2 separate regions of the Homo sapiens genome follow, and region 1 is linked to region 2. A link means that fine-mapping ties the variant in region 2 to the expression of a gene that starts in the linked region. Tissue or cell type: whole blood. Region 2 holds a variant in brackets; the other region holds the start of a gene. All regions are shown on one strand. Distances are from middle to middle.

Evidence for each region. PIP is the estimated chance that this variant, and not a neighbour inherited with it, causes the effect.
Region 1: it holds the start of ZSCAN18, and the variant in region 2 is fine-mapped to the expression of ZSCAN18 in whole blood (INTERVAL, PIP above 0.99). The same link has a PIP of 0.9 or more in blood mononuclear cells.

The regions. Positions count from the first base shown.
Region 1 is chr19:58,096,133-58,101,277 of GRCh38, reverse strand. It overlaps ZSCAN18 (zinc finger and SCAN domain containing 18), which reads left to right and starts at 3,047. Exons shown (of 7, transcript NM_001145543.2): 1 at 3,047-3,104.
Region 2 is chr19:58,179,823-58,184,967 of GRCh38, reverse strand. It overlaps ZNF274 (zinc finger protein 274), which reads right to left and starts at 1,907. Exons shown (of 8, transcript NM_133502.3): 1 at 1,526-1,907; 2 at 970-1,047. The coding sequence starts at 1,002. RefSeq lists enhancers at 1,055-1,244, 871-1,582, 1,495-1,914, 1,583-2,296. The variant A/G (reference allele first, on the strand shown) is at 2,465.

The DNA.
Region 1 (5,145 bases), 84 kb after region 2:
GCCTGTAGTCCCAGCTATTCGGGAGGCTGAGGCAGGAGAATGGCGTGAACCCGGGAGGTGGAGCTTGCGGTGAGCCGAGATCGCGCCACTGCGCTCCAGCCTGGGCAACTGAGCAAGACTCTGTCTCAAAAAAAAAAAAAAAAAAAAAAAAAGTGGGAGGAATAACTGCACCTGATGTTGTTACTCTGTAGCCGTGGTAACCCAATGTGGTATTGGCAGACACATAGATCAGTGGAACGGAATCGAGAACCCGGAAATAGACCTGCAAAGATATTCCTGACTGATTTTTTAAGGAGCAAAAGCTATTCAATGCAGGAAAGATAGCCTTTTCCAGATGGTGCAAGAACAATTGGCCATCTGTGGTGTAATAAAACCTACATTTCATCTTTTTTCTTTTTTTTTTTAGATGGAGTTTTGCTCTTTTGCCCAGGCTGGAGTGCAGTGGTGCGATCTCAACTCACTGCAGCCCCTGCCTTCCAGTTTCAAGCTGCCTCAGCCTCTCGAGCAGCTGCAATTACAGGCACCTGCCACCATGCCTGGCTAATTTTTGTATTTTTAGTAGAGCCAGGGTTTCACCATGTTGACCTCGTGATCCGCCCGCTGGCCTCCTAGAGTGCTGGGATTACAGGCATGAGCCACCGCGCCTGGCCCTTACATTTGATCTTTATCCCTGGTTCCTGGCACAGAGCTAAAAGCCTTGGAATTTTGTGAATAATAGGAATAGGGTTTGCAATTCATAAGGAGCCCGTTTCGACCACACCTGAGTTTATGCTAATGAGGTGACTCCAGTGGGACCCATAGATATCTTCAGGATGGGGATAGTCACCTTAAAGAAGGTATGGACCCTCTCTCTGCCCCACGATTGAGAGAGCTGGGTTGGTGAACACATCTGAGTGCTGGGAGGATGGCTCACCCAGACGGTACATGGATGCACTGCACCTTCAGTGCCCCTGACCAGACCTTAGCTGTGCATCTCTTCCATTTGGCAGTTCCTGAGTTATATCCATTAAAATAAACTGGAAAGACTGGGCATGGTGGCTCATGCCTGTAATCCCAGCACTTTGGGAGGCCATGGTGGGAGGATTGCTTGAGCCCGGGGGTCTGAGACCAGCCTTAGCATTATAGTGAGACCCCATCTCTTAAAAAAAAAAATTAGCTGGGTATGGTAGCGCACACCTGTAGTTCCAGCTACTCGGGAGGCTGAGGTGAGGATCACTTGAGCCTGGAAGGTCAAGGCTGCAGTGATTCATGATGGCACCACTGCACTCTAGCCTCAGTGACAGAGTGAGACCTTGTCTCAAAAAAAAAAAAAACATAGCTTTCAAAACTGAGCAATTTTTTTAAAAATTAGAAAATGGGCAAAAGATACGAACAGATACTTTAATGAAGAGGGTATACAAATGCCAAAAAAATCATTAAAGTGTGCTCAAACTTGTTAGCAATTAAGGGAAATGCAAATTGAAACCACAATGATATATCAGTACATACCTATCAGAATGGCCAAAATAAAAAATAGCAAAACACAAATGCTGATAAAAATGTGAAGTGGATTCACACATTCATTGGTGGTGGGAGTGTAAAATGGTCCAGCTACTCTGCATGAGAGTGTGGCAGCTTCTTACAACACTAATAAGCACGTGTTCATTGTGTGACCTAGAAACTGCACTCTTGGGCTTTTATCCCAGAAAAGTGAAAACTTACGTTCACAGAAAAATCTGTACACGAATGTTCATAGCAGCTTTATTTTTAATAGCAAAATACTTAAAACGATCCTAATATCTCTCAGTGGGAGAAGGTTTAAACTGCTATATACCATAGAATACTACTTCTCAATAAAATGGAATGAACTGTTGATACATACTACTTCAATGCCTCTCAAAGGAATTATGTTCAGTGAAAAAGCCAATCTGAAGAGGCCACATACTGTATGATCCCACTTATATGACACTGTGAAGGCAAAATTGTAGCAGTGGACTACTTAGATTAGCTGTTCCTGGGGTTATGGGTGGGGAGGGAGTGACTACCAAGAGGCAGCAGGAGGATTTTTGGGCAGTGGAGCTATTCTTTGTCCCGAGTTTGTTGGTGGATATGAGTTAAAATTCATAAAACTGAATACCAAAATGTGTGGTGTATGTAAATTTAAAATATATAAACTGTTCAGATATACATTTTAAAAATCAGTTCACACAAAAACGACCAAAATGGCATCCTCATAAGCGCCTCTATCTGGAAAACTGAAATGGGAAGCAGCTCCTGGCCCTATCCTGCCTTCCAGGGGGGCTACATTTATATGGGGCTTTGCCAAAGCCCTCACCCCAGCTGCCACTCACATTTCCCTCATTTCAGCAGCTCCTGAATCCCTGGGGTGGGTAATCTTTGAGTTCTATCCACTCCTTGAAACTGTAGAACCCATTTTAGCGCATCAGTGTCTCTGGGTCTCCACCTCTTGTCTCCCCAGTACTGGGTCTGCTGGTCCCTGTCTCTGTATCTCTGTCCAGATCTGTCTCAGCCTCGAGTGCTCCTTTTCTCTGGGTCTCTCTCTTTTCCTGAGCCTGAGCTGGTCTCTTTCTTTTCTTGAGCCCATGCTGGTCTTTCCCTTTCTTGATCCTGGGCTGGTCTCCCTCCTTTCTTAACCGTGAGCTGGTCTCTCCCTTTCCGTGTCCGACTCTGTACATCTCTGTTTCGGGGACCCCAGGGCGTCTTGGTCTGCCCCCGAGCGTCTGTGGGCCTTCATGCTTCTCTCCCTCCCGGTCTGCGCGTCTTTTTGTCTTTGTTTCTCCGTTTCTCACCGTCTTTGTTTCTCCGGGTCTCTGGCTGTCAGGGGTCTATTATTTACCCGCTTGTTTACTTCGTTGCCATGGTGCCCAAAATGACGCAGGCGCCGGAGTGGGCGGGACGCCGGGAGGCCACACTCGCGTCTGATTGGCCATGCGCACTGTCACCTGTCACGGCTCCCTTGCTCGCCCCGGTGCGCGGCACAGCCTCGCGGCATTGTGGGAGTCGTAGTCCGCGGTGAGGCCCAGTGCGCAGGCGCAGTTTGCCGGCCGCCATCGCGCACTGGGGCTCCGGGCGGCTGGGACCGGCCTGGGGTAGCTGCGCAGCAGGTGGGTCGGTCCCGGGGATGCAGCGCGGGGGTCAGAGAGCGACCCCAACAGGGTAGACGGTGAGGACGCCTCAGTGGGCAGCGTTAGGGAAAGGGGCCAGGGTGTTCCCGGGGTTGGGGTGCGAGCCCCCGCTGTGCGTCCAGGAGGCCGAGGGTCTGGCATCCCTTCGCGTGGAGTGCGGGGCAGGGGCCGGGTCCCCCCGGAGGTGGCTGAGATCCAGATCGGTGAGGGGCCCTGCAGGCAGGTAGGGAACTAGTGCAACCCCCACCCCGTGTAGGCTCGTGGAGGGGAGGCGCTTAGGGCACCCTGTGGGTGGGAGAACAGGAAGGGGCGGCTCCTGATGGGGGAGAGATGAGGGAGGGGGAGGCTCCTGATGGGGGAGAAAGGGGGGAGGGGAAGGCTCCTGAGGGGGGCGAAAAGGGGGAGGGGGAGGCTCCTGAGTGGGGAAGAGAAGGGAGGGGGAGGCTCCTGAAGGGAAGAGGAGGGGAGGAAGTGGGGGCTGAGGGTGTGAGGATGTGAGGGTGTCCGTGGTGGGGGGACGCTGGGCAGGCTGTGGCCCCAGGGGCTGGAGCAGGGAAGGGATGGAGGGTGCGGGGACCAAAGGGGTGCCTAGAATGGGCATTGTCTCTGCTGCCCCCACCCTTGGAATATCTCGCCTCTCCCCAGTCACCTGGGGGTGGGTTCTGTTTGAGTTAGGTGTCTGCGCCCACCCCGGAGACCTCTCTCGTGGAAGAGGCAAGAGTGGGTGTACTGGCTTCGGTCCTGACCCAGGGGGTTGGGGTGGGGGCCTGACTCACCCTCCCATCACTCCTTCCCCATTTCCTTTCTCTCACCCTCCTGGGCTCCTTCCTTTTCCCAATCCCCCTCTACCCCCGTCCAGACTATCTGGCTTTCCCTGCTCTTGCTCCTTCCTCTCCTGTCTTCTCTCTCCCTGCTACCTTCCCTCCCCGCTTCCCCCATTTCTGTCTGCCCTCCTTCCACTTTCCCATATATTCGCCTGTGTCCTTGCTGACTCCTGGGCGAGGCTGAGTGGCACAGTCACTTGGTTCCATGTCACCTCCTCGGTTCCATTTCACTTCCCCCATCCCATCATGTCCTGCGGATGGTTTCCTGCCCTGGAGTCAGAGCGGGACCACGTGTCGCATCGAGTTGCTGTTTTCTGTGCATGATGCTTGAATCTGTGACTTCCTGGGTATTTCTGGCCTCGGGTTTTCGGGGAGCCTAGGCCAGTTGCGCAGGACATCTCTCTGGTTCTGTCTGTCCTGGCGAGTGGATCAGGGACCACAAAAGGCAGCTGAGATGTGAACGACGACCCTTACTCCATGTTTTTTCATTCTTTTAAAAGCACTTTTACCCCTTTTTATAATGAGTAAGTGATCTGTGGATGAAGCCAGGGCAGACCCTGGGAATATCCGGCGACCCATCAACAACCACATCCCATGCATTGAGCTTCCCTGGCTGATCCTCAGGCCTGTGGCTGTGGGGTGGTTTGCTAGACCCTGCCGATGAGTGTGGTGGGATGGAGAGCTGCGATGAATATTCCTCAGGTGGCCAGGGCTGGGCCCACGGAGGGCCAAACCAGGCTTGAGCTCTGCTCAGCCCAGGATGAAGGGGATTTGCTGCAGGACTCTGGAGACCCACCAGGCTTGGGACCCCTCAGCTCAGCCACCCCTCACCCACCGTGGAGCTCTCTGCCTCAGCTTCTGTATTCCAGGCCTCTGGGTGCAGCAAAGCCTACAGGACTGGCTCAAGACTTGTGCAGATTGCTTCATTTGCTGAGGCTGGGGGGCTGGGCTCCAGGAAAATCCCATCTGAGGCAAATCCTGGACAGTCCCAAGATTAGGGGAGGGAGGTTTGCCCAGTGACCAAGCCAGACTCCAACGAGGTGTGGCCTCATTCAAGCAGGCTGTGGCAGGAAAGGGTCCCAGTGGTATCTCTATTTTGTTTGTTTGTGAGACACGGGCTCATTCTGTCGCCCAGGCTGGAGTGCAGTGGCCAATCACAGCCTCCAACTCCTGGGCTCAAGCAGTCCTCCTGCTTA
Region 2 (5,145 bases):
TTTGTATTTTTTTAAGTAGAGACGGGGTTTCACTATGTTAGCCAGGATGGTCTCAATCTCCTGACCTCGTGATCCACCTGCCTCGGCCTCCCAAAGTGCTGGGATTACAGACGTGAGCCACCGCGCCCGGCCCCCTATTTCTTATTCATTTGAAAATTCTGACTTTGGGAGTGGTGCGTATGCCTCCTAGGGAATTCTCTGAGCTGCACCATCACACCCAAGCCGTCAGCCCCTACCCAGGGCCCTGATGCTTCTTTCTATCTCCTTCACCTGTCAGGGATCCATCCTCACCTGTCTTTTCTACTTGTTATTGAACTCTGCTGCTGTCACCTCTTGCTTGATGCCAATTTATCTGCTGAAATCTAAACATAAGCCTGATCCCTGCATAGACCTTTGGGAGGCCGAGATGGTCGGATCACCTTAGGTCAAGAGTTCCAGACCAGCCTGGCCAACATGGTGAAACCCCGTCTCCACAAAAAACACACACAAAAAATAAAAATAAAAAAAAAATTAGCTGGGTATGGTGGCACACGCCTGTAGTCCCAGCTACTCGGGGAGGCTGAGGCAGGAGAATCACTTGAACCCAGGAGGCGGAGGTTGCAGTGAGCCAAGATCGCGCCACTGCACTCCAGCCTGGGCGACAGAGGGAGACTCCATCTCAAAAAACAAAAAACAAACAAACAAAAGACCTGTCAATTACTCTTCCCAATATAAAGGATACAAGCAAGAGCCTTAACCTGGCCTTCAGAAGCCCCTACAATCTGGTCTCTATTCTAACTACACCCTTGGAAAACCAAGCAACCTGCGGTTCCACCATCACGCAGGATCTCTCATGCCCAACCAATCTCTACCCCCTCCCCGAGGTGCTCTGGAGGATGGGGGTATCTCAGGGAAGGTGGTATCTCACCACCATCCGCATCCTCCCAGGTGCAGTAGCGGACTCAAAAGCTGAAGGAAGCCTCTACTCACACAGGACCAGGCCGTCGGAAGCCTGGAGGCCATAGTTTCCTCCTTCTCAATGTGTCTCTGGTGGAAGTGGGCAGAGTCCTGAGGAAACCGAAGTTGGGAGGGGAGGGAGAGGCTTAAGGTGTCCGCTGGGGAGCTACCGCAGCCTCCGCCCAGGAACGGCTCCCTCAGCGGGAAATGACAAGTCCACCCAAACTGGAAAACGCCCAGAGTGAGTCATAGGACTCCCACAGGACTGGATAGGACCAGTTTTCCCCTCCCCGAGAGGACACCGAGCCTCCTCTGTCCCGCGCATCGGAGGGGATCGCCTCCCTGGCCCAGACCCCACGCTTCCGGAGGCGATCTGTTCTCTCCACCGCGGCGCCCCGAAAGCACTGTCTCCCCTCGGGGTTCCGGGTCACCGACCCCATCCCACAGAGCGGCGGGAGGACTGCAGGCACGGCCGGCTCAGGGTACCCGAGCTCGGCGGAAAATGCAGAGGCCGCGCTCGCCCCCAACTAACGGTTCTGGACCCGCCCAGCGCAGCCCCCGACGGACGCAGGTTTCGCGCGGCACTCACCCGGCGCGCGCCGCACAATGGCGCCCGTCGGCCGGCGGCGAAGTGCGTCAGCCCGCCGTCCCGAACTACAACTCCCAGACGCCCCCGCGGCGCGCCAGCTTGCCTCACCCAGCGGCGGCCATCTTGACTGGCCGGTTAGGGGCGGCAGGCGAAGCCGGGGACAGCAGGAGGAGGATACTCGTCGATGTCCCTCGGCGGTCCAGCTAGGCAAGGGGAGGCCTCTGGTGAGGGACGCTAGGCCGCAGGGCCCCACACTAATGTGGGCGGCGACCCGAGCTGGGAGAGAGTCGTGCCCTGCCACGAAGGCGACCACTCTTGGGGCAGAGCAGAAGCTGGAGAAAGGAAAGGCGCTGGACAGGGGTCAGGCCGGAAGTGCTGGAATGGGTGATGCTTGGTTGGGTGGCGGTGGGGGCGGGATTAATTATGACGTCCCTTGGGAAGAGGAAGGGCGGGTAGGGCCGGAAGTGCAGGGGGCGGGCCTAACTGGCCGTCCATCTGGGTGGAGGGGCGGGGACAGGGAGGGCGGGGAGAATGTAGGAGGCGGGGCTAGAGTCCACGCAACTTTTGGGGAAGGAGGGGGACTGGAAGACGGAAGTCGCGGGGGGAGTGGGGAGAGGTACTGAAGTTCCACCAGTTTCAAAGTCGAGAAAGAAGGGGAGGACTGGGAGAGCCGGAAGTGTGCAGGAGTTGGGACTGACGGCACTTATGTTTCTGGGAGATGGGTCCTGCCTGAAAGTGAGGGTGGACAGGGCCAAGTGTCCACTCAAGGTCAGGGAGGGGAGGGAAACTCGGAGGACCGGAAGTGTGATGGGAACGTGGCCAAACGTCCACCCTAGTTCTGGGGATTAGAGGAAGGGAGTAGGAAGGTCAGGGGTGTGCAAGGGGAAGGAGGGAAGACTAGGTGGACCACAAGTGTGATGGGAATGAGGCCAAACGTCT[A/G]CCCTAGTTCTGGAGAGATGATCAGGGCTAACTGTACCCCAGGCATTGGGGAGGAGGAGCAGGATCCTCTGCCTAGTGTCCCCCTGTGGTCCAGTTTGCTCCTGGAAGCTGAGGTGCTCATGTCTAGGGAGAGGAAACCTAAGTCTGTAGCTGTCCAGGACCTGGTGTGTGCCACCCATCCTTGGGCCCAGGGTGCTCTCATCTTCCTTGGGAGCTCAGGACAAGGAGGTATTCTCTTGGCTTCCTCAAGGACCGACATCTGGTGTTTTCTTATCTTCCTTAGGTCCCAGGTCCCAGTATGGTCTTGTCTTCTTGGGACCTGAGGGCCCTAATGATCTCTCTCAGTGCTCAGGACCCTGTGTCCTCTTTCTTGATATTTCCTGGCAGGTCTCAGCAGCCCTCTGCCTCCCTCTGGTGGTCGTGTACACTGCCTGCTAAACTTGTTCCACGGGTTGTTGGTTTTTTTGGTCACTGTGGAGGATCCAACCTCAGGCTACACATTGTTTAATTGTTGCTGTTAGTGTGTTGATTTTGGCATAGGAGTATTTACTCAGAGACTGTGCAGATATCTTATAGTCTAATAATATTTCATTGGATTTTTCGTGTCTATTATAGATACAACACCATCCCCAATTAATAAGTAATTTGATATCTTCTTTTTCCATATTTCAACTTTAAAAAATTAACATTGTATAGTCCTAGCTAGTATGACAGAGCTATGTTAAGTAGTCATGTTTACTAATAGTCTTGTTTTGTTCTGGATTTGAATAGGATACGTCTAGCCCTTCATAATCACAAGGAAGCAAACCCCCTTGGAAATTCTTTTTTTTCTTTCTTTTTTTTTTTCTTGAGACAGGGTCTTGCTCTGTCACCCCGACTGGAATGCATTGGTGCGATCACAGCTTACTGCAGCCTCCACCTCCTGGGCCCAAGTGATCCGCCCACCTTAGCCTCTCAAATAGCTGGGACAGGTGCACACCACCACACCTGGCTTTTTTTTTTTTGGAGACAGAGTCTTGCTCTGTCGCCCAGGCTGGAGTGAGGTGGCACAATCTCGGCTCACTGCAACCTCTGCTTCCTGGGTTCAAGCGATTTTCCTGCCTCAGCTGCCCAAGTAGCTTGGACTACAGGTGTGTGCCACCATGCCTGGCTAATTTTTGTATTTGTAGTAGAGACGGGGTTTCTCCATGTTAGCCAGCCTGGTCTCGAACTCCTGACCTCAGGCAGTCTGCCCACCTCAGCCTCCCAAAGTGCTGAGATTATAGGCATGAGCCACCCCGCCTGGCCTCTTTTGTACTTTTTTGTAGAGACAGAAACCTCACTATGTTGCCCAGGCAGGTGGAAATTCTTCTAATGATTTCTTTCTATTTATGTGGTATAGGATAAAACCTGATTTTTGATTAAAAGAATTTGTTTTTGAGACAGGGTCTTGTTCTGTTGCCCAGGCTGGAGAGCAGTGCTGCAGTCATGGCTTACTGCTGGCCCAACCTCCTGGGCTCAAGTGTTCCTCCCATCTCAGCTTTCCAAGTAGCTAGGACTGACTACTGGTGTGCATCACCACACCTGGCTAATTTTTAATAAATATTTGTGTAGAGATGAGGTCTCAGTGTGTTGTCAGGGCTGGTCTTGAACTCCTGGACTCAAGCAATCCTCCCGCCTTGGCCTCCCAAAGTGCTGGGATTGCAGGCGTGAGCCACCATGCCTGACCAAAGATGTTTTGTTTTTTTTTTTTTGTTTTGAGACAGAGTCTCGCTCTTTCGCTCAGGCTGGAGTGCAATGGCGTGATTTCGGCTCAACTGCAACCTCTGCCTCCCGGGTTCAAGTGATTCTCCCTGCCTCAGCCTCCTGAGTAGCCGGGCGTGCCACCATGCCCGGCTAATTTTTGTATTTTTAGTAGAGATGGGGATTTGCCATGTTGGCCAGGCTGGTCTCGAACTCCTGACCTCAGAGGATCCGCCCACCTCGGCCCCGCAAAGTGCTGGGATTACAGGCTTGAGCCACTGTGCCCAACCTAAAGATGGTTTTATATAAGCATATTATTGAAGATTGATTTATGAGAGCCATTTTAATTCAACTTTTAATAACTGCATACTCTTTTCCTGTTTAGCAAATTAAATATGCTGTTTATTGTAATTTGTAAAATAAAAATGACTTCTGAAGAAATGTTAACTATTAAACATGTAAAATGTTGAAAAAATTTATTCATCGTTGTTGGATTTAGACAGTGCCTCGATTGCTTGTTCAAAACCTTCTGAGCCAGATGTATTTTGGAATTCATGATCATTTGGATTTTAGTAGGATGGTAATGTATTTACACCATACAGTGTGTAAATCCCTAAGAGGTGTGGGGTAGCACCTGCCATCAAACACATGAGTATATCTGTAGCAAAATACAAGAAGATTTACACTAGGTGGAAGAGAGACAAAATATAAATAGCCTTGTTCATATAAATTTTGCAGACTCATAACAGGGAGAAATTTTCTGTTAGAAAATATCTGGAATTTTGAATTACATAGAAGGCATTATGGATCATAAGTGAAAATGTGTGTTGTAGAAATAGTAGTTATTTCATTCAATTGCAAAGTTTAATTTTTACTTTTTCTCTCTTAATATAGTCTGCATAGGGCCAGGTGCGGTGGCTCACACCTGTAATCCCAGCACTTTGGGAGGCTGAGGTGGG